2 separate regions of the Homo sapiens genome follow, and region 2 is linked to region 1. The links come from fine-mapping of genetic effects on gene expression. A gene starts in region 1. The other region holds a variant in brackets. All regions are shown on one strand. Distances are from middle to middle.

Region 1 (11,911 bases):
GGCAATAATCAGTAGTTTACCAACCAAAAAGAGTCCAGGACCAGATGGATTCACAGCCGAATTCTACCAGAGGTACAAGGAGGAACTGGTACCATTCCTTCTGAAACTATTCCAATCAATAGAAAAAGAGGGAATCCTCCCTAACTCATTTTATGAGGCCAGCATCATTCTGATACCAAAGCCGGGCAGAGACACAACCAAAAAAGAGAATTTTAGACCAATATCCTTGATGAACATTGATGCAAAAATCCTCAATAAAATACTGGCAAACCGAATCCAGCAGCACATCAAAAAGCTTATCCACCATGATCAAGTGGGCTTCATCCCTGGGATGCAAGGCTGGTTCAATATACGCAAATCAATAAATGTAATCCAGCATATAAACAGAGCCAAAGACAAAAACCACATGATTATCTCAATAGATGCAGAAAAAGCCTTTGACAAAATTCAACAACCTTCATGCTAAAAACTCTCAATAAATTAGGTATTGATGGGACGTATTTCAAAATAATAAGAGCTATCTATGACAAACCCACAGCCAATATCATACTGAATGGGCAAAAACTGGAAGCATTCCCTTTGAAAACTGGCAAAAGACAGGGATGCCCTCTCTCACCGCTCCTATTCAACATAGTGTTGGAAGTTCTGGCCAGGGCAATCAGGCAGGAGAAGGAAATAAAGGGTATTCAATTAGGAAAAGAGGAAGTCAAATTGTCCCTGTTTGCAAACGACATGATTGTTTATCTAGAAAACCCCATCGTCTCAGCCCAAAATCTCCTTAAGCTGATAAGCAACTTCAGCAAAGTCTCAGGATACAAAATCAATGTACAAAAATCACAAGCATTCTTATACACCAACAACAGACAAACAGAGAGCCAAATCATGAGTGAACTCCCATTCACAATTGCTTCAAAGAGAATAAAATACCTAGGAATCCAACTTACAAGGGATGTGAAGGACCTCTTCAAGGAGAACTACAAACCACTGCTCAAGGAAATAAAAGAGGACACAAACAAATGGAAGAACATTCCATGCTCATGGGTAGCAAGAATCAATATCGTGAAAATGGCCATACTGCCCAAGGTAATTTACAGATTCAATGCCATCCCCATCAAGCTACCAATGACTTTCTTCACAGAATTGGAAAAAACTACTTTAAAGTTCATATGGAACCAAAAAAGAGCCCGCATCGCCAAGTCAATCCTAAGCCAAAAGAACAAAGCTGGAGGCATCACACTACCTGACTTCAAACTATACTACAAGGCTACAGTAACCAAAACAGCATGGTACTGGTACCAAAACAGAGATATAGATCAATGGAACAGAACAGAGCCCTCAGAAATAATGCCGCATATCTACAACTATCTGATCTTTGACAAACCTGAGAAAAACAAGCAATGGGGAAAGGATTCCCTATTTAATAAATGGTGCTGGGAAAACTGGCTAGCCATATGTAGAAAGCTGAAACTGGATCCCTTCCTTACACCTTATACAAAAATCAATTCAAGATGGATTAAAGATTTAAACGTTAGACCTAAAACCATAAAAACCCTAGAAGAAAATCTAGGCATTACCATTCAGGACATAGGCGTGGGCAAGGACTTCATGTCCAAAACACCAAAAGCAATGGCAACAAAAGCCAAAATTGACAAATGGGATCTAATTAAACTCAAGAGCTTCTGCACAGCAAAAGAAACTACCATCAGAGTGAACAGGCAACCTACAACATGGGAGAAAATTTTCGCAACCTACTCATCTGACAAAGGGCTAATATCCAGAATCTACAATGAACTCAAACAAATTTACAAGAAAAAAACAAAGAACCCCATCAAAAAGTGGGCGAAGGACATGAACAGACACTTCTCAAAAGAAGACATTTATGCAGCCAAAAAACACATGAAGAAATGCTCACCATCACTGGCCATCAGAGAAATGCAAATCAAAACCACTATGAGATATCATCTCACACCAGTTAGAATGGCAATCATTAAAAAGTCAGGAAACAACAGGTGCTGGAGAGGATGTGGAGAAATAGGAACACTTTTACACTGTTGGTGGGACTGTAAACTAGTTCAACCATTGTGGAAGTCAGTGTGGCGATTCCTCAGGGATCTAGAACTAGAAATACCATTTGACCCAGCCATCCCATTACTGGGTATATACCCAAAGGACTATAAATCATGCTGCTATAAAGACACATGCACACGTATGTTTATTGCGGCACTATTCACAATAGCAAAGACTTGGAACCAACCCAAATGTCCAACAATGATAGACTGGATTAAGAAAATGTGGCACATATACACCATGGAATACTATGCAGCCATAAAAAATGATGAGTTCATGTCCTTTGTAGGGACATGGATGAAATTGGAAATCATCATTCTCAGTAAACTATCGCAAGAACAAAAAACCAAACACCGCATATTCTCACTCATAGGTGGGAATTGAACAATGAGATCACATGGACACAGGAAGGGGAATAACACACTCTGGAGACTGTGGTGGGGTCGGGGGAGGGGGGAGGGATAGCATTGGGAGATATACCTAATGCTAGATGACACTTTAGTGGGTGCAGCGCACCAGCATGGCACATGTATACATATGTAACTAACCTGCACAATGTGCACATGTACCCTAAAACTTAGAGTATAATAGAAAAAAAAAAATTAAAAAAAAAAAAGAAAATCTATAACCTTAAAAAAAAAAAAAAAGAAAAATATCCCATTTTAATAAAGGATAATGCATATTAGAAAAAAAAAAAAAAAGAAAAATTTGGGTTCTAGTCTCAAACGCTGAAACTTAGAATTAATTAAATTTTTTTGTTAACTTATATTCTTCTCATTTTAGCATATTTCTTCCTCTTTCCTGTTGGTCTCCATGTGCTGCCAAAATGATGCATAATCCCCAGGGTTTACGAGTCTTCATTCTCTGTAAAGTAGGGGTTTTTTCCCAGAGATAGGGAAGGTATCAGGAAAAAAGGAACAGTTAACCGGGTTATAGCTAATTTTACCTCGCTTATCTTTCAGAAAACTATCTCAGTTTGCCATGGTCCTGGATCCCTTCTCTGTAAAAGGTCCACTTTATCATCTTTGTCTTACTCTGAAATGCTTAACTTACTTAAGAATTTCAGCACTGAGATGTATACATACACACACACCCAGAGACACAGAGACATATTCGTATCACTTTATTGAGATATATTTCACATACCATACAATTCTCTTAAAGTGTACAATTCAGTGGTTTTCAGCATATTCACAGAGTTGTGAAACCATTGCCACAATCATTTTTATAACAGAAACATAGCTTCTAAATTCCCTGAGTCATCATACAGATAGAAACCAAGGTCCAGATGGGTTAAGTTATGTTCCCAAGGTTACAGAGCTGGTCAGTGGCTGAGCCAGACCTAGATCCCTGGAAATTATTTTAGCCATTGACATCATCTGGGGCTCCCTTCCCCTGCCCCAGGTAAGTTCTGTATGAATTAAAACCTGCTGTTAAAATGTTGTCTGAGAAAAACATCTGGCATTTTTTATTATTGAGCTCCCTCATATTATATTAAACCGGTCTGATTTCTCCACCAAATTGTTGCATTGCAAGATTTTTTAGAAAGACTTCTAGAACATATTAAAACATATCTACTGAGTACTTTTAACCACAAAACATGGCTATGAAGCCCAGAGAGAATCTGTGATGCCTCTCCTTTCAGGTAAAGTCATAAATTATTTCCGCTCATGCGAAAAAAAAAAAAAAAAAGACTAAATAAGACGTTCTGTTCATTTCATTTTTAATGTACTGATTACAGGTAGTTAAACCAAACTACCCATGACTAGCAAAATATTTCTCCAGTGCCAATAACTTCCAAGGATTTCAACCATTCATTCTGGTTACTGTCAGAAACCAACTTAAATCACCCAAGGGCTTACGTTATCTCTGAGATTTGCTTATCTTTGAGATTTGCCCCTGTGAAGTCCATACCCAATAAAGGAAAAGTTTTCAAAAGAGGAGGTTCATTTCCTGCCAGTGCTAAGGAAGCCAATGTAACAAGTACAGCCAGCGATTACTCTGGCACTGCTCTGCTCTGCTCTGCTCACAGCAGCACTCGGCCTCCTGGCTGTACCAGCTGAGGACACTCCACAATACCTAGCTCACTGAAGCACTTGTTGATTGCTCCTGCCTTTAAATGTCCCCCTTCCATGATGGTCTTCTCTCTCCTGTCATCTACGAGTTCTTTCTTTCCTGTGTTGTGCCACCCCAAAATTTCATCTATTCAATAAATATTTATTGAGTGGTCACTGCTCAACAATTACTGGGCTAAACATTGTCCCTAAATGGGGGTGCTGTCTAGAGTCTGCCTTTAACTCGCTGTGCCTTTTCTCACTTTTGTCTACACATACATTTTTAAATCTCCGCTTAGGCTGGAAATCACCAAAAATCTGTAGCTCCAGTACCAGCCTCACCCCCTGAGCTGCAGGTCAGGATATGCACCCCAACCCAGGCCAGTGACATGTGAATGTCCCAAAGACCCCTCAAAGTCCCTGGGTTCAGTGGTGAATCCATCATCTCCACCCTCACCTGAATAGCCTCTCCTCCAGGGCTCCTTAACACCTTGAATAGCACCACTGTCCACCCAGTGCCCCCAGCTAGAAACAGCATCACCCAGTTTCCATATGGAAAGAGTGTGAGTGAGGGGACAGCAGTGCCTTTCAGCCTGGAACTGGGGCTAGAAGAAGAGAATCTTCTAATTGCAGTTGCTTTCTATGGGCCAATTTGTGGGAGAAGCAGGATGAGACCTCACCACAAATGTGGACGTTGAATGAAATCTGTCTACCCTGGCTCTAGCAAAATGGGGGCTGGGGTTGCGGGGAGAGGTGGTGAGAAGCAACAGACCCAGCGGTGCTGGTGGGGAACAGGTTTTACAACGTGAGCTCTGCCATAGCTGGAAGAGCCTGCAATGTTGATGTTGAAAAACAAATTTGCTTGTCATCAACACACACACACACACACACACACACACACACACACACATCAATTTCATGTCTCCCCTCCTGTTTTCCTGTTTCCTCTGCTCAGAACGGCTTTCCTCCTATCATCCCACACCCTCAGCCATAATTCTTCCTCATACTTAATTCTCAAATGACATGTCTCCTCCTCCGGGAAGCTCTCCCTGACGCCCCCACTGTGTTATTTGTCATCCTCTGTGCGTGGAGGTGTGTCTAGCACTGTTTGTTTACGTGTCTGTCTCCGTGTCTCCCCTGCAGGCTGTCAGCTCTGTAAGAGCAGAAGCGTGATGCCCAGCCCCGGGCCGACACCGGGAAGACGGTGGGGAGGGGAAGGACCGCGGTAGAGAGCCCCAGCCGGGGAGCCGGGCACAGTCCAGACGGGGCCATTTCGATGCGCGCGCGGGGAGCTCAGCGGGACACAGCCAAGCGCCAAATACACAGCATCTCTGGAGGCGCCGGTGGCCGGTGGAGGATGGGCCCCCCACGAGGCTCTCCCAACCAAACGGCTGGAGACTCGGGGGAGGCCCTGCCGGCATCGTACTCCCTGTGGTCGTCCTCCCCTCGCGCGGGTAGGGGCCCCCCCACGCCCACTCCGTCTCCGCCTCCCGAGTCCCCGCGGCCGCCACCTCTGCCCTCCGCTCCGCAGAATCTCTCCGATTTACAACGGCCCAGGGCAGAGCCGGGGGCCAGGGAATGGGAAGGAGAAGGCGCCAAGACGCCGAGGAGAGAGCAGGCGGCCCCTCACCCCACCCTCGCGCCCTCCTAGGCGGGAAGAAATTGAGCCCCGAGAGAGGCCCTTCAGGGAACAGGAGTCCCAAAGGCCCGGGAGCCTCGGGGGGCCGCAGCCTCCGCGTCCCCCTCCCTCCTTCCCTCCTCTGCGCCTCCCTACCTGGCTGGCTTTGTGGAACTGCTTCTTCAGCCCGGCCACCGACATCGCGACTGCGACCGGCAGGGGCGGGGTGGTCTCAAGGCTCGGCTGGGCCACGCGGCCGCGACGCGCTCGGGGAGCGGGAGCCCGGGCCGGTCCCCCCGCGGCTGGGCTCCGCCGGGCCCGCCTCCCACGGCCACGGCCACAGCCACAGCCGCTGTCACACTCGCACACACGCGCGCACGCCGATGGCAACACTGCGTTCCAAAGCCCCTGCGCAGCCCATTGGCCAAGCCGCGGCGATATGCAAATGAAGCTGCTGGGGCCGCCCACGCTTCATTGTTGCGTGGAGACCTGGGCTACTTGAGCCGCGCAGAAGACCGGCCTGGGAAGCTGGGCGTGGGGATGTCCTGGGGGTCGGGGGAGTACAGTCACACAGTGCTTCTTGCTGGGCGCGGGACGATATAGATCTAGCTCTGAGATTGTCATGGGTACCGGGAGAGAGATCAGTTCTCTCTGCTTCTGTCTTGGTGCCGAACCGGCTTTGGCTCACAGGCAACATCGCCTCCCTCCGGCGCATTTTCGCTCGGTGTATGTTTAAGAAAGGAAGGCTCAGAAATGCGCCTAGGGAGGGACAACAAATGCAACTCGATGGGGGACCTGTGGTAGGAGGAAGCGGTCTGTGGGTGGCGGGCTTTCTTCTCTCTCCACGCGGTGCTCTGGGTGCAATCTGCTCAAATGATTTTGGTCTTCTGGGAGCCCTAGAGTTATGGAGTAATTTACTAATAAATACGGTGCTAGCTCACTTGGTGCTCTGAGCCCGCTGTCAACGGCACTAAAAGCAACCATCTCCAAGGTGCCATAAAGAGCTCGTTGCATATCCGGCGGAGTCCACCAGACCAGGAACCCAGCTCTCTCGGTAACCCCTACCAGCTGTGTCAGTTACAGAGTGTCCATTTGCACAGAGTCCAGAGGTCGACGCACTCACAGCTAAGCCCAGCCAGGGACATGGAGCATTGCGTTAACCTCGTGTTAGAGCTATCCCCAAAAGGTACAGCATCTTCGCTGAATCTGGCTTCCAAAGGTCCCGAGGATTCCCAAACCTAGAATATATGTTTGGCAACGCTTCACACTGAAAAACAAAAACATTTCCCACCTTCAGTCTCTTTTTGGGCCCTTAGCAGGTCCCATCTGGGGTGACGAGCAGTCCCTGTCTGCCCTGGACACTTCGGGTATATGCCTGTGCCCTGGTGTCCACCTGCCATAACATTTCTCCAGGACAAAAGTCATGCAGTTCCTCCCCTAGCTGTTAGCTCCCAGCGCCCAGTCGGGGCTAGTCCTAACCCTGACTTCATCCTAGTGAGGACTGGGCAAGTAAGTACACACCTCTCTGGGCCTTGGTTTCCTCACTTCTACTTGAAGCATGTAGACTGGAATAAACAGTGTTCCTCCTCTGATACTGGGGAAAAAATGCTTGAACTTAGTGGAGATCGTGGGATAAGGGCAGCCAGTCAGAGGGTTAATGAGCATGACTTGGGTGAGTGTTGTGGGCTTACCTGCCTGACACCAGCCACTGATAGATAACTAAAAAGTGTGAGGGTGGTGACAGCTGGGTCAGAATGGCGTAGCAAGATGACCTGTCCATACAACAGTTCAAATGCCTCTCAACAGTGGGCTTCACCGCAGGCCAACCACTACATAAGGCAGAGAGCCAGCTGCAGCTGGAGTCCAGGATTGGCAGGTCTCTCTTGTCCTAGGCTATTCAGGGCTGCTCAGCTTCCTCTTTCTCCATGCTCCAGAGAGGTTTAAATAGCACCGGTTCTATGGTACCTCCCCCTAGACCAATCCGGCTCTGTGCCCTTTGGGAGGAGGGGGGTGCTTTTTTTTCAAACAGTTTATTGGCATTTCCTCCACAGTCGTTAGTACATTCAAGTTTCTCACTTCAGTTGATTTTGGTAATTTATCTCCTTCATTAATCAAGTATAGAGTTGAAGATCATACTTTTTAAACTTCAGAATCTTTCATATACATTTTCTCCTTTGTAAAAGTTTTTGTGATTTGTCTTAATTTTTTCAGTGAATAGATTTATTGGAGGTTTGCTGATTTTATTGGTCTTTCAAAATATTTTTGAAGGTACTCATCATTGCTACAGATTTTTCTCTCTCATTGATTTTTCTTTCATTATTCTTACACATTCCTTCCTTCACTTTTGTTCAGAAGACTAGTGAGAGTTTGAGGGTTTTAACAATAGAAACTGACTCTAGCTAACATAAGCTGGAAAATATGTATTGGAGAAGGATGTCAGGCAGCCTGGAGATTCACAGGAGGGGTGTAGGGAACAAGGTGGAGGGGATGAGCAGGAATTAGGAATCTGAGCACTGAGATCCACAGGGTGTCCAGGAACAGCTTGATTGGGATATGCTGGCTCTGCCACTGAGCCCTGGCCATGGCTACCAGAATGAAGGCTGCCCTTTCAGGCAGTCACTCCAGCTGCATAGTAGCAAGGGCAGCATCTGATTGGTGGATTCACTCCATGGCAGATTTCCCTACTATAGGAGGAAGCTTCAGAGGTTAGGCAGCCAAATTTTATATATATATATATTATATCATATATTATATATATATAATATATACATTCTTTAATATATACCATGTTAGAGAATATATAATATATATTAGAGAATATATATAAAAATAATATATATAAGCAACAACAAATGCCCATTAAAGTGTATTTGGGTATCCTTAATCTCATGTCTTTTATTTATTTTTATAAAACTATAAATTTTCCTCCTGAGTATGGCTTTGGTTTCATACCTTGTTTTCATGAATGATATGGATCTCCTATTTTCTAAATAAAACTTGTCATTACAGTTTTGAGTTCCTCTTTGATCCAAATGTTATTCAGGATAATTTTTTAAAAAGCTTTTCTAGGCTGGGCATGGTGGCTCACGCCTATAATCCCAGCACGTTGGGAAGCCGAGGCAGGCAGATCACGAGGTCAGGAGAGCGAGACCATCCTGGCTAACACGGTGAAACCCCATCTCTACTAAAAAGTACAAAAAATTAGCCAGGCGTGGTGGCGGGCACCTGTAATCCCAGCTACTCGGGAGGCTGAGGCAGGAGAATGGCATGAACCTGGGAGGCGGAGCTTGCAGTGCGCCAAGATCGCACCACTGCACTCCAGCCTGGGCGACAGAGTGAGACTCAGTCTCAAAAATAAAAAAAATTAAAAAAATTAGCTGGTCATGGTGGTGCATGCCTGTAGTCCCAGCTACTCTGGAGGCAGAGGCAGGAGAATCACTTGAACTCAGGAGGTGGTGGTTGCAGTGAGCCAAGATGGTGCCACTGCCCTCTAGCCTGGGCGACAGAGTGAGACTCTGTTTAAAAAAAAAAAAAAAAAAAAAAAAACCTTTTCTAGGTGGTTTGATTTTTTAAAATTTATTCTATGTTAAATTCTAGACTTGTGATACTATCGTCAAATAACATGTCTTGAAAGGTTTTTTTTAAACATAGCCTGTCATGTTTCATTGTAAACACATATCATAGAGGTTTGAAATACTGTTCATTTTGTGTTTCTAATGTACAGTTTTTTAGTTCATCTGTAACAAGAGTGTGTATTCTACACAGCTTCTAGCTCAGAGGAAGATTTCCAACTCATGCTAGCTAGAGCCCCCTTGGCCAGCTCAAGGCTTTCCCCTTCACGTCACCATCACCCTTCAATCACTAAGGGCCCACAGCTCCTCTGTTTAGGGAAGGGGGGTACAAGTGTATACAAGTGTCCTGGACTGTTTGACAGATTTGTCTACATATGGAATGAAATTGATGGGGACTGGGAAGTGTCCTGAGGCACTGACACACATCCCTCTGAACTGAAGGATTTTTGGGCATTTGGTGGTCTTCACAAGTCAATGACAAGAGGGACACTGTGGTTGTCTCTGGCACTCTGCCAGATGGCCCATGTTCTGGCAGAGGTTTCAGTGTTCTCTTAAGCTCTTTTTCTTTTTTTCTTTTCTTTTTTTTGGAGATGGAGTCTCGCTCTGTCGCCCAGGCTGGAATGAGGTGGCACAAACTTGGCTCACTGCAACCTCCACCTCCTGGGTTCAGGTGATTCTCCTGCCTCAGCCTCCCAAGTAGCTGAGACTACAGGCATGCACCACCATGCCCAGCTAATTTTTTTTTTGTATTTTAGTAGAGACGGGGTTTTCCGGAGCTGAGGCAATCAGCCCACCTCAGCTTCCCAAAGTGCTGGGATTACAGGCGTGAACCACTGCTCCTGGCCTATGCTCTTTTTCTTGTGGCCTTTGACTCACCTCCAGGCCAGCTTTTGAGTCTAATGAGTATTTGCATTCCTTGTGTCTGGTTCTGTAGCAAGTGACTCATATCTATCTGGGGGGCATTGTTGGGGGGCAGAAGAATTCTGGGTAGGGGTTAGAAGGGGAGGGAAGCATGCTTATTAATGTTCAAAATATCCCATCATATATCTCATAAATCAGGTATGAGCATGTTCAAATGCTCTGTGTTCCAATATTTTTCTTTTTTTTTTTTTTTTTTTTTTTTTGAGATGGAGTCTCGCTCTTTCGCCCAGGCTGGAGTGCAGTTGCGCTATCTCGGTTCACTGCAAGCTCTGCCTCCTGGGTTCACACCATTCTCCTGCCTCAGCCTCCCGAGTAGCTGGGACTACAGGCGCCCGCCACCGTGCCCAGCTAATTTTTTGTATTTTTAGTAGAGACGGAGTTTCACCATGTTAGCCAGGATGGTCTCGATCTCCTGACCTCGTGATCCGCCCGCCTCGGCCTCCCAAAGTGCTGGGATTACATATTTTTCTACTTTATTCGTCAAAGAGAGGTACTATATTCTACTCTACAATCTCTTGCTACAATTGTGATTATGTCTGTTGCGTCTTATATTTGGGACTTTTGTTCTAAACATTTCAGTGCTATGGTATTCTGTTTATAGGTATTTATTATTGTCATATCTTCCTTGTCGATTTTTTCTTTTATCTGTAGAAAAAAACATATTTTGTCCTACTTACAGCTTTTTGCCTTCTATTTTACTTTGCCACATACCCATATTTGTATCCTTACTTTTTGTGTATATGTGCTTCTTATGTCTTAATTGGTCTTTTGGCCTTTCATTTTGTTGTAGACACGTGCTGCTATAAACAGAGTAAAATTTAATTTTGTTTCTGGACCAAAATATGTCTTTGCCGTTTCCTAGAGAGATTTAAGCATTTATATTTATTACAAAAAGAAAAATTGTCATTGTGTGGTATGTTATTATTTTTCTTCTACATAGTTCCTTTTTGGGTTTTTTTTGGGTTTTTGTTGTTGTTGTTGTTGTTGTTGTGTTGTTGTTTTGAGACAGGGTCTTGCTCTGTTACCCAGGCTCTGGAGTGCAATAGCACAATCATGGCTCACTGAAGTCACAACCTGGGCTCACGTGATCCTCCCACCTCTCCCTCCCAGGTAGCTGGGACCACAGGCACATGCCACCACACCAAGCTGATTTTTTTTTTTTTTTTTGTACAATGGGGTCTCACTATGTTGCCCAGGCTGGTCTCAAACTCCTGGGCCCGAGTGATTCTCCTGCCTTGGCCTCCCAAAATGTTGGGATTATAGGCATAAGCCATCATGCCCAGCCATAGTTCTTTCTTCTATCATTATTATCTATCTATTACTCAGATTTTCTTTGCTTTTTCTTCCTCTTTGCTTTTGGAAATTATTCATCTAATTTTTACTCAATGAGTGATTACCACTGACCTAAAATATATTTGAATTTATATTCTCTATCAGCATCAATAATTAAACACTTTATGGAAGCCACGGCATGACTAGAATGAGCCATGGTCAGAGCACATCCACTAGGGCCACCTCATCACCTCCTTCTACTCAGACCACCTCCTGCTCCATATGAGAACCCTCAGGCAGAGACCAGAATGGGCCCAGTACCTTTTTTCTGAAACAGCAAATGAACCAGGGGGAGACTAGGGTGCAGAGTGTTGGTTTTAAGACACGGGGGCAAAGATGGAGTGACG
Region 2 (11,911 bases), 130 kb before region 1:
CGCACTTTCTAGCTAAGCCAAATCAAGACATTAAGTACATTAAACAGTTAAGAACTGTAAATGAAACAGATAAGAAAGGGGGCCAGGGAGCAACATGTGAACTGGGGCAAAGATTTCCCTGTCCCCTCTATGCGTTTTGTTGCTATCCACTCAACATATTTTCCCTGAAACATAGAGCTAAAGGGAATGAACTATAAAGACACTGGCATCTCTGTTTCCCACAAATCAAGACATTCATGAAATTAATGACTAACTTACAATGAATTTTTTAGAGCTGTGTCTCATAAGGAAAAACCTGGATGATATGGGGCTGTATAATTTGAGGAAAAGCAATCTAAGGAAGGCCTGAGAGCTTTCCTGCTCCCCCACGTGTCTGAGGGGCTGCTACAGGAAAGAGATTAATTAAGCTTATTTCTGAAAGCCCCAGAGGCAAGCTCCAGAGGGTTGAGGTGATGGGCCTCCCCCAGCAAGAATCCAATCAACTCTAGAGCTGGACAAAGACACAAATCAAAATCAATCCTACACTTCCCAGGCTTCCCCAAAGCCTATGCATCATTTCCATACTTCATTTTCTACTCAGCTTTAGGGCAAAGTCTGCCTGCTGATTCATTTATGCAATCTCACCCTGCCTAACCAACCATGGACTTAGCCTTCAAAGATCCAAGCTACTTTCATTTGTAGTTGCAAATCATTCTTTAGTTGCCTGTACTTAAATTTTTCTTACTCACTTATACTATTTTAAACACGGGCTCAATATGCATGTAAGAGACACATTGAATTCCATGTGTGCCAAGCTGTGATCAGCATCCGAACAATGAAATCCTGTCGGGTTTCATTTACTTTACCATGCTCTGTGGCTGGAAAAGCAACAAGCCTAGCCTTAAATTTCCAAAAACCCAATAAACAAAACAAAGACAGCCTGGCCCCTACTAAATCCTAAGGATTTCTTAAATTTCATCTCTTTGGCTTTTACACGTACTTTTAAATAAGTCCAGGGCCATGGCCTAGCACGATCGTAGTAGAATTTGTTACAGAAACAATTTTTCTTCCTTACAGTGCTAGAGTGGTGTGCTTGGCAAAATCTATGCTATGCCTCTCTGCCTTTAGTAAAATTTATTTGCCCTGTCTTATTACCCACTTTAAAAAATGCTTGCATTTTATAATTTTTAAAGAAATAGTGAAAGATAGCTAAATTAATATTTCTTGAAACATATTTGGGGTTGGGGAACAGGAAGGGGGCAAGGGGATTACCAGCTATCCTCCCTGTCGTGGCTAAAACACAAGGTGATGTAATCTAGAGATGCATTCGTAACTGCTCATTGGGTGGCTGACTTTGGGAAGGAAATGAATCCTGAAAACCCTTAAACCTTGGGAAACAATGGCAGCACTGCCCAATGCTTGCACCTAGCAGGTGCTCAGTACAAGTCCTGAAGGGCTGGCTACTAGGCTGTAAGTCTCTTGTTGACAGTAAAGACCAGGTGTGCTACGATAGATTATTTTCCTCTTGATTTCAGAAAATTGAAGCTTCCAGCTGTCCCCCAGGTCATGAGCATTGAGCTGTGTGCTGGGGACCATGGGGACCAACACAGGTACATTCAGCTTCCTGAACCACGATTAGAAATAAATACCTAGACAGGCAGAACCAAGATAAAGCAACAAACTCAGGCTTAGCAAGAGCCAAAACCTGACCAAAAGGTAAAACATTTCTTCCATTGTTGGAATTTCAGCAGTCCATCTGTTGAATCAGAGAAAGTCACCTGGGGTGGGAAGAAAGGTTTAATTCCACTTCCGGGTTGAGACCTGGGCTGACACTGTGCTGGTGCCATCTTGAGAGCAAAGTGTGACCTCACCCATGAAAATGTTCACGTGATATACGCCAAGGAACTGGATTTCCAGAGAATCCACTCCCTTTTCTGAAAGTGAAGCACTCTAGCTCCTACAGATGGGCTCACACTCAGCTGATGTTTGAAGTGAGAAACTCATAATGCAAGCTGACTTCCATGTAGGTTAGAGGTCAAGGAGGCACAGGCCTCGGTGGTTGACAAATGTGTGAAGTGAGGGCTGTGAAGAAGCAACTTGGGAGACACACAGAACCATAAAACCAGAGGGGGCCTGAGGTAGACAGAATCATGGAACCTGCAAAGATGTCCAAATATTAATTCCCCAAACCTGCAAATATGTTACTTTACATAGCAAAAGGGACTTTGCGGTTATGATTGAGTTAAGGATCTTAACATGAAGAGATTATTTTGGAACGTCTGAATGGCTCAATGTAATCACGAGGTCCTTTAAGGGGGAGACAGGAGTGCCAAGGTCAGAGAAGATATGACAATGGAAGCAGAGGTCAGAATGAGATACGTGAAGATGCTGTGCCGCTGGCTGTGAAGAGGGAGGAAGCGAAGAATGAGCCAAGAAATGCAGGTGGCCTGTAGAAGCTGGAAAAGGCAAAGAAGCAGCTTCTTCCTCAAGAGCCTCCAGAACAAACATGGCCCTACCCACACCTTGATTTTAGGACTCTAGGCTGGAAGACAATAAATGTGTGTTGCTTTAAGCTACAGTTTGTGGTCATTTGTTATGGCCCCAATAGGAAACTGATACAGAGCTGCTTTAGCCCATCCTCAAACTATGCAAAAACCTAACAATGAGATTAGTGCTGCCCAGGGACCCCCATTCATGGTGATGGGAGTTGTTGCCTGGAGACGCATAAGAACCAAGCTCAGGGGGTAATGGGCCCATCGTGGCTGGGCCTGGGGACTTCATTGTTGGTTTGGCTGTATCCCAGGGCTCCTCACTCTCTTCTGAGGGATAACCCCAAAACAGGAATTAACTCAATTTATCTCCCATGGCAGACTATACACAATAAACAATCCACAAGTGACACACGTGTGTCACCTGTGGATGCATTTCATTCCAAACCTCTCTATAGCTGGAAACCAATGGATGATTAGCAGCATATATGGCCGTTGGGAGTATCTTAGTCCTGGGGATGGAAACAGAGAATAGATGTCCCCAACTACAATGGACTAAGGATACTAGAAGTTTCTAGGAGTTATGGAAACCCCAGGGACACTTGCATAAGATCTGAGCCATTGGCCTGGCCTTGTGAGCCAACTGCAAAAGGCTTAGGCTGTACCCAAAGGAAGAATGGCTCAAAGGACTGCATACTGTAACCAAGGCTGTCTTAGGCCAACTCTGCAAGAGGACTATGGAAACTGGGGTGCCTAGAAGGAGCAGGGCTGGGAACCCTCCTCCTCTGACCCTTTAGCAATCCCTTACCAGGGGACTTGGTGAGCAGCCGGGTGAGTAAGCAGAGAGTAGCACACCCTGAAGCCCATGGCGAGGACAGAGAGAGAACTGTGATGTGAGTAGCTGATGCCTGTCCAGACGCCTGGGGTCTGCAAGTGTGTTTGGCATGCAGGAATAAAGAAGTGTACATCTTCAAAAGACGACAAGCCATTCTCTTTCACAACTGAAAAGGCACATTTCCCATAGAGGTCACCTTCAATTTACAGTGTAATAATACCAGTAATTTCTTGCTCTATCATATCAAAGACCTCTACTCTTTTTGGATTCCTCAGAGAAGCTGTGGAAAATTTCTCATGTATTTTGCAGTCTGGTCATAAACAGATGACTTTTCCAATGGGGCAAAAGCCTTTATTCAGAGTTTCTGAGAAAGTTTGAGTAAGGCAATTAAATTAATAACATGGATAATAATCCCTTACACTTTTATTCTCCACTTTATCCTTCTAAAGAATTTCTCAAATGCAGTTGTTAATTTGCCTGATACCAGTCAGGTGAAATGATTTTCCCAGAGGCTTAGCAGAAACAAAATCAGAAACAGAATTCAGGTATCTCACGCCTTGCTGGGTATGCTTTCTACAAGTTCAATACTTCCTAATGCATCTTATTCCACACATTACAGTCCTGAAACATTAGTAATAATATAATAATGTGACGGAATTCTGCGGTCAAATAAGTTTGGTAAACTGCCAACTGTATTTTCTGTTAGGAACCGCTTAGAGATTAATCTTTCATACTGTCAAATAAAGACTCTGAAAAGTCTTGTGATAAAGAAACTGTTTAGTTTTATTTAACCCAGGGTTTCCCAAACTTATGTGACCACAGAGACATTATTAATGCAAAACACACTAACATCCCATGGAATGGATTTTGGAAAATGCTACTCTAGACCAATGGAAAGACCTCAGGAATCTGGAATCTAGTAATTCCACTGGTCTTGGGAACCCATGAATGGAAGGAGGATCCCGTAGCTGGTGAATGTATACCAAGACAGCCAGTACTGCAGGTGCCTGGACTCACTGGACTGAAATAGGCATCTTCTATGGAATATCTCTGATTTCTGCTAATGTCAAAGACCTACATTTGCTACTAGTAAGTTGTGAGGAATAATGAGGAATAAACTTCTCTGCAAAGACAGAAGAGGTGACAGTGTGTTAACAAGCCTATGGGTGATATAGTGTTCCCAAGATACGGCAATGAAGGCTGGTAACCAGTCTGCTGACTTTCCCACACTTTCCTCCAAGAGGAGGGCTGCCCTGGTTACTTCTCAGGACCCTGCCAAGCCCAACTTGGCCTGGTGAGAAATCAGTCATGGGACTGCCCCTCTTGGATCCCTGGAAAGTTGGAGAACCAAAACACCTCCTGGCTTGCATCACTGCCTATAGAATAACGACACTGCTCAGCCTCAGGCAAGATGTGAAGAGATGCTCAATGTCTCTAATCCAGCTCCCATTCACAAGACAACCAAAGGCTACAGTGTGGGGCCGAAGGAGACTCTTCTTCATTCTCCCATTCCCAGTTCTGCCAAAAATAGATGAGAAAATAGATAAAACTTCTGCTTAGGAATGTTAGAGTTAGCATGTCATGTCTCTCTACCTCCCCTTCCTTTGGTGATTCATCTAACTGGTGAGATTACGGGAGTGGCACCCACTTGGCCCTAATAACCAGGGTACCTAGACACTGCAAGGAAAGGCAGTAGGGGCCTGGCTCTGGGCTCCGGATTTCTCAAGAAAGTGGGTTTGTGAAGTGGCCACAAGATCGTGTGTCATCTGGCTTTGTGGTCTCTGCACCCGCTCTCTCTGCAGGGGCTCCAAGGTCTAGACTTCAGGCCAGGAATAGCTCACTGGACTTCTACTGTGGGCCCAGGCCCAAGCTGCCCCTTCCAACATGGCTTTCTAGAGAGCCCTGCTCTCTGAGCAAGGGGCTGGCATGTGATCTCATGTGGCTCCCTGGGTTTGTTTCTCAGTTGGGAGAATGCAGAGGTGAGGACAGTGAACAACCACACCCTGGAAATCCCTGCAAATGGCCTGTTGGCCAGAAAACCCTAGGAAGTACTACATCTGGAGACCCAGGAAAGACCAAGTCTGTTAACTCCAGTCAGGGTTCTCCTCACATCAGTCAGAGTTTTGGCAAACAGTTTCTTTTGAGGCATTCCCCGGTGAAGCTTTTATTGCGTCTTAGCCAGGATGATGAGACATGAGGGCTGGAGAAGGCACCAGCTCTTCCCCCAGGGTGAGATTTTGGTCTTTGAATTGTCAGTGCCAAACAGAGATGGACAGGTAGCACAAGAGCACCAAGCACACCCATCTCAGAGGATTTCCCTTCATTTGCTTCTCTGCTTATTCACTTTCTCTTTGGAGCGAATGCTTCTAAGTCCTCTCGCCAGGCCCTCCTCTTCCTCCTCTTGTGGATGAGGTTGGGGGTGCTCCCTAGTTAGTAGGATGGGTTGCTCTGCCTCAGTCACTGGCTCTGCAGGGTTGGGGCCAGCAAGGCTCCCACTCACCCAGCTTCAGCGTCTCAGGCTGTATCTGGGTGGTAAGACAGGCGGGCTCTCCCCTAGAGCTGGCTGTCATCCACCGAAGGTGCAAGGAGGGGAAAGTGCCAACAGGACTTTAGGCCCAGGCCATGTCCTTCAGCACAGTTGACCAGGAGGTCTGTATTTTACAATTTTCAAGCATTCTCATCAGTTAAAGAGATGTCCCTTGATTCCAATCCGGCTTTTTTGTCACTTCCTCCATTGGTCAGAACCCAAAGGGTGAATGGCTGTGACTGACATCCCCAAACTTCCCACCACAGTAACAGAAGCATGTCCCACTTGTGTCTGGAGGAAGTGTCAGGGCCTCTGCTGCCTGCCACCAGGCTTCCCTTGCAGCCACTCATTTGACAGTTTGTGCACCTTGTCTCCAGCAGGTACCAGATCAGGTAGAAACACCGTCCAATCCATCAGGCAGCAGCACCCAAAGACCCACTGTGTTTGACATGGCGATTAGAACAGGTCCCAGCCATCTTTAGTTTCTGCCAGGAAATCCAGCCCTCCCCAGCCATCCCGAAGCACAGCTCCTCATGCAGGACTTCCCCACCAGGAAAGGAAGCAACATGGCAACAAGAGGTTGAGTGACCAAGGTTGGACGTGCGGGTTGTGACTCACAGGGAGCAGGAAACCAGAGTCCCATGGGCTACAAGGCCACCAGCTCTGGCCTGGTTGTTGGAGATGGGCCAAACACAGGGCCAAGGGTTCAATGTATGCCCCATCAACCATGTATTGGCATTTTGTCTTTCTCCCAACTAGTCACATTCTCTGTTTATCCCCAAGCACCAGGCAGTATCGGCATTGGCATGTCAGGTCCAAGGAGTGACCAGCAGGAGATTTTTCTCTAGCTTGTCTGGTCAACAGGAGAGGATGGTCAGACCACCTGGCTATGGCACAGACACACTGACATGGAAAAGGATCAGGTGATTCCCTCTGATCTAACTGCTGTTGACCCCAAGAAGAGAGTAAGATGGGCTTCTGAAGCCTAAACAATCATCTCTGAGTCTCCTCAGCTATAAACCTGGGTAGGAGAAAAGGTAAACGCACATGCACCATGACAGGGACCATCAACAGCACCCCCTTAGCCTCTTTATCATGGGGTGTCAGTGAATGGTAGCTCTTGTCATTGTCATCATCATTATCACCACTGTCTTTATCATTATCACGATCACCACCATTACCGCAAGAAGCAGCAGCCAGAGCACACCTAGCAGCCATTGCAGCTACAGATGGCAGGAAGCAGGAAGCAGGAAGGAGGGAAGAGCCTAGTTCCC[G/A]GGCAGCCTGGGCGGCCCATCTCCGTTTCATAACGTTGGTCTCCTCCCACCTCAATGGCAGAAGTAGAAGCCAGACAACCCCTCCTTGTGAAGGTGAAGACCCCAGGATCCAGGCTGAGGGAGCAGCCCTGACTCCCCAGAGCTGAACAGGGGAAACCTCCACTCACCTGCAGGTCAATTTCCCACAGGAAGCCTTGGAGGAAACACTGCAACCAGGCCGGAGCAAGGCCAGCACCAGAGCCCCTGCGGAGCTTGGGCTAGGAACCAGCTCTTACTTCTGCTGGGGCAGGGTGGGAGGACTTAACCCATTTGTGACAGGCAGAATACGTGTTACTGTCAAAACATGGACAAATGATTGAGCTTTTATAATGAAGGGATCCTTTTTGACTTTTGACTGATACTGAGGGGGAAAACTGAGGTCTCTTGGGTCAACTGCTAAGGCCGGCGTGGCTCAGACAGGCTTCCCTCATGGAGCACTTCGCAAAAACCCATCATTGTGGTTCCCGCATGAAGGCAGTGAATGGAACAAATGGGTCAGACGGCGCATCTGACACACAAGACACAATCTCAGAGTTTAAGCCATGAATGGGCCTGGAGCCAGCAGGGCAACATTCCATATGGCCCAACAAGGAGTATCTGATACATGTCACACTTCAAATACATTTTCTAAAGACTTCAAAACAATACGGCAATCTGAAACAAAACAAAATCGCTGTTGCTTGGGGACAATTTCAAGAGGAAATTTATACATTTAAAGAAAAACAGAGATACCAAACTGTCACACCTCCTCCTATTTCCCAAAAAAAATGTAAAAAAAAAAAAAAATTAAAAGAAGAAACACAGTAGAGTGTACTTTTCAGGCCTCAGTGGTTTAATGGGCATGGGAAATTTCAAATTGGCATTTCCAGTTGGGAGAATAAATTCTCCAGGATGAATGTCTTGTTAGTATTGGACATAATTCCTCCATACATCACCATGGTAAATAAAGGGTGCTCAATGCATTTTGACTTGACTCAAAGGATGTAAGACCTCAGTGTACCTTTAAATAAACTGTTATAAGGACGACATGGTCTTGAGGATAAATAAACCTCCTGACTTGTTCCCACAGGTTTAAAAACTTAACAATTAGGTCCCATACTAATGCTGGGGCTGAGACAGCTCCTGGCATCGCTGAAGCCAGGCTGAGGGCAGGGGCTCCGGAGGGAGGCAGGTGGCTGACACCTCTTCCACTCAGGCAGTCAAAGTGCCAATGGCCCCTTAAACCCAAGGCCGAGCAGGGAGGCCACCCCCAGCTGCGTGTTGCCTGGTCAGGAGTCACCGTCCTCCTTAATTCCATTTCATTTGACTTTACTTGGACAAATCAAATCAAAGCAAATGGCAGGAACCACAGTACAATAGAAGATTGGCACTTCTGAGGGATAAGATCCGAGACCTTCACAATTCCCGAGCCCACAAGCACCACTATGGAACAGCTGAAAAATTTGGGTCATGCTTTTGTGTCCTCAATGTGGGCTATGACAGGTAAAGGCACCAGAGAGCTGGGGGATGACAGCGGCTGTCCGCCCCCCAGATAAGAGAGCTGTTCTCCCTTAACCATCTGCCTTGCCAAGTACTTTTCAGTCTCAGCAAAATGGCAAATTACTACATGACCTCGACTTTTCATTCTCCTGTGAAACCATAAATCCTATGGCCTCACATACAAAAGCCAGTCTACTTAGCAATCTTCAGAGACAACCTCTGAAGCAATCCTGGGATAAACAGGACTCCTCAAGATTTAAGATATTGAGTCAGGGGCTGGCGTGGTGGCTCACACCTGTAATCCCAGCACTTTGGGAGGCTGAGTCGGGTAGGTGGCTTGAGCCCAAGGGTTCATGATCAGCCTGGGCAACATGGCGAAACTCCCATCTTGACAAAAAATTATCAGGGTTTGGTGGCATGCCTGTGATCCCAGCTATCCAGGAGGCTGAGGTGGGAAGATCGCTTGAGCCTGGGAGGTCGAGGCTGCAGTGAGTCACAATCGTGCCACTGCACTCCAGCCTGGGCAACAGAGTGAGACCCTGTCTCCAAAAAAAGATGTGAGTCAGGGCTTGCTGGATGTCTGAAGCAATCAATCTCTCAGGCAGGAGATAGGAGAAAATTCTAGAAACTTGCATAACAACTAAGGCTTTAGAGCAAGTTTGTCCAACCTGTGGCCCACAAGCCACATGTGGCCCAGGATGGCTCTGAATGTGGCCCAACACAAACTCATAAACTTTCTTAAAACATTATGAGATTGGACGGGGGTGGTGGCTCACACCTTTAATCCCAGCACTTTGAGAGGCCCAGGCAGGCAGATCATGAGATCAGGAGATCGAGACCCTCCTGGCCAACATGGTGAAACCCTATCTCTACTAAAAATACAAAAATTAGCCGAGTGTGGTGGTGCGTGGCTGTAATCCTAGCTACTCAGAAGGCTGAGGCATGAGAATCACTTGAACCAAGGAGACGGAGGTTGTAGTGAGCCGAGACACTGCACTCCAGCCTGGTGACAGAGCGAGACAGCGTCTCAAAAAAAAAAAAAATTATGATTTTTTTTTTAAGCTCATCAGCTATTATTAGTATTAGTGTATTTTATGTGTGGCCCAGGGAAGCCAAAAGATTGGACACTCCTGCTTTAGAGTTTTTCAACATGCCGATCATAGTCATATATTCAATGTTTCATTCATTTACATTAAAATCTCCTATTTGGTTTAAATACTTACATCATTTTCTAAAAAGTTAAACATGCTTCTTTCAGCCAACTCCTTTGACTCTTCAAATTTTTCTACCGCTTGTCTGACTTCTTCGTCTGGTATCTTACCTACTCGTTTCTTTTTATAATCGTAATCCAGGCGGCGGCCTTCCAGCTTTTTCAGGTGATGCTAAAAAAAGAGAATGGAGTCCCTCAGAGAGGTGCTACATTCAAAACCTGGCACAAAAAATTATTTCTATTAAAATGGTCATTGCTTTTTCTCGGCCTAGATTCCAGAGGGCAGGAACCCACCTTACACTGCTGTTGGGAGCACCTCAGCACCTGATGGAGGCTCCCCTCACTTCAGGTGCTCCAGGAATATTTGTGGAATGAATGAATGAATGGACAGATCGGTGATAGAATGAATGAGTGTCTTTATGGAATGTAATGATGCAGTAGCCATGCTCAGATATTATTTTCCAACGTTCTTTATACGATCCCTCACTTCAGCCTTCTTAATGTCCAGATAATTTCTAACCAGGTTAACCAAACAAAACACAGTAGGAACATTTCTTTTGGTACTATTGTCAACTCCTGACTAAGTAGTAGACTATAAAATCACAAACTTCTACAATCCCTTAGAATATTAACGGATCTCCGTAAAGTTCCCAAACAATCAAGAAATAAGTTGCGTAAAACGCTGTTAATGAATGCAAAGGAGAGAGATTCACAGACAACCTCTGAAACAGTAAAATTTCTAAACAATATTATAACCGCTTTAACAAAATATAACAGTTAGAACTGTCCACTCATGGAACAGGCTGCCTTGCGTAGCAGTAGGTTTCCCATCACAGTTTGTGTCCAAGCAGAGAGACCCCGTGTCAGAAACAGTGCTGAGTGGGATAGCTATACAGGACAAGGGAGGGGTCCCTGGAGAGTTTATGGCTATAATCCTCGGAAATCAGATACCAGGCATCGAAAGTGTATGTAGAAACTGATCATCCCACTGAAGCATGGGGATAGCTCGCACTATTCATTTTAGCAGGAAGCACTGCTTCTAACTTCCATGACTCAGTGAAAAGAGCACACAAGACCCAGAGAGTCAGAAACATCTCTCTCTTTGCTCTGTGACTTTGGGCTGGTCCCTAATCCCTCTGTACCTCTACATGAACACCTGAAAGTCAGCCGTATGTCAAATGAACAGGCCCCTGACCCCTGATTTCTGAGCGACACAGAGCATAGCTGAGACTATGAAAGGCTTCCTAAACCTTGGACTCTTAACTTTCCATCATCCACATAATTTAAGTTTAGATTTACAGTTCTGTATCAAACAGCAGCTGAGTAACAAGATGGCATTTAGAAAACTATTTTGTTGCATAGAGAACTGCAACATTTCAGAATAAGTGTGTTTTACACATTTCACCCACTTACTACTCAGGACCACATATGTGTCTGTGGTTGGCCAGGTGGAGGAGCAATGCTGACTTTTCATATGACCTTCCTCCATGATGACAGCACAAGAAGAAATAAAACTTGCTATATGTCAGCAAAGGAGGCATTTGGTTTTACAACTGTGCATTTGGGGGAGATGTTTTGGCATCCCCAGAACCCAGACTGTCACTTCTCTAGAATCAACCATTCAAAAATAATTTGCAAAAACATCTCCTGTACCCCACCAACATATACACCTACTACGTACCCACAAAAATTAAAATTAAAAAAATAAAATAATGTGTGAGCACAAACCACGTGGGAGGCTTGTGACTACAAGGAACAAACCACGATCACTCACCCCGAGGAATGGACTGCCCAACATGAGCAAAAGGTAAGCAACGGTGCTCATGACACAGAGGCACAGAAGGGATACCCCACGAAGTCTAGCGAAAGAACAAACAGCTTCCCAAAGGAAAGCACATCCGAGCTGAGGGGTGAGGTGACAGCCAGGAGAAGGGGTGAAAGGACAAAGACAGCAAATAGCGAGAAAGCACAAAGCAAAACGTCACCAGGGAGCTGGAAATAATTCAGTGAGGCTGGGCAGAGTTCATGTGGGGAAGGGGTGGCAATAAGGCCACAGAGGAAAGGAGGGGCCAGGCTGTG

Alleles and levels. Alleles are on the strand shown, and positions count from the first base shown. SD is a standard deviation of normalised expression in the study named.
With allele G in place of A in region 2, the expression in spinal cord of the gene that starts at base 6,133 in region 1 is higher (moderate effect, 0.52 SD a copy in GTEx).

The links. PIP is the estimated chance that this variant, and not a neighbour inherited with it, causes the effect.
Region 2: its variant is fine-mapped to the expression of SH3GL3 in spinal cord (GTEx, PIP 0.99).

The regions. Positions count from the first base shown.
Region 1 is chr15:83,441,563-83,453,473 of GRCh38, reverse strand. It overlaps SH3GL3 (SH3 domain containing GRB2 like 3, endophilin A3), which reads right to left and starts at 6,133. Exons shown (of 9, transcript NM_003027.5): 1 at 5,896-6,133. The coding sequence starts at 5,940. RefSeq lists an enhancer at 6,278-6,437.
Region 2 is chr15:83,574,676-83,586,586 of GRCh38, reverse strand. SH3GL3 (SH3 domain containing GRB2 like 3, endophilin A3) reads right to left here. Exons shown (of 9, transcript NM_003027.5): 6 at 9,846-10,004. Among named protein-coding and RNA genes, the nearest start is that of ADAMTSL3, 73 kb to the left of the region's middle. The variant G/A (reference allele first, on the strand shown) is at 7,105.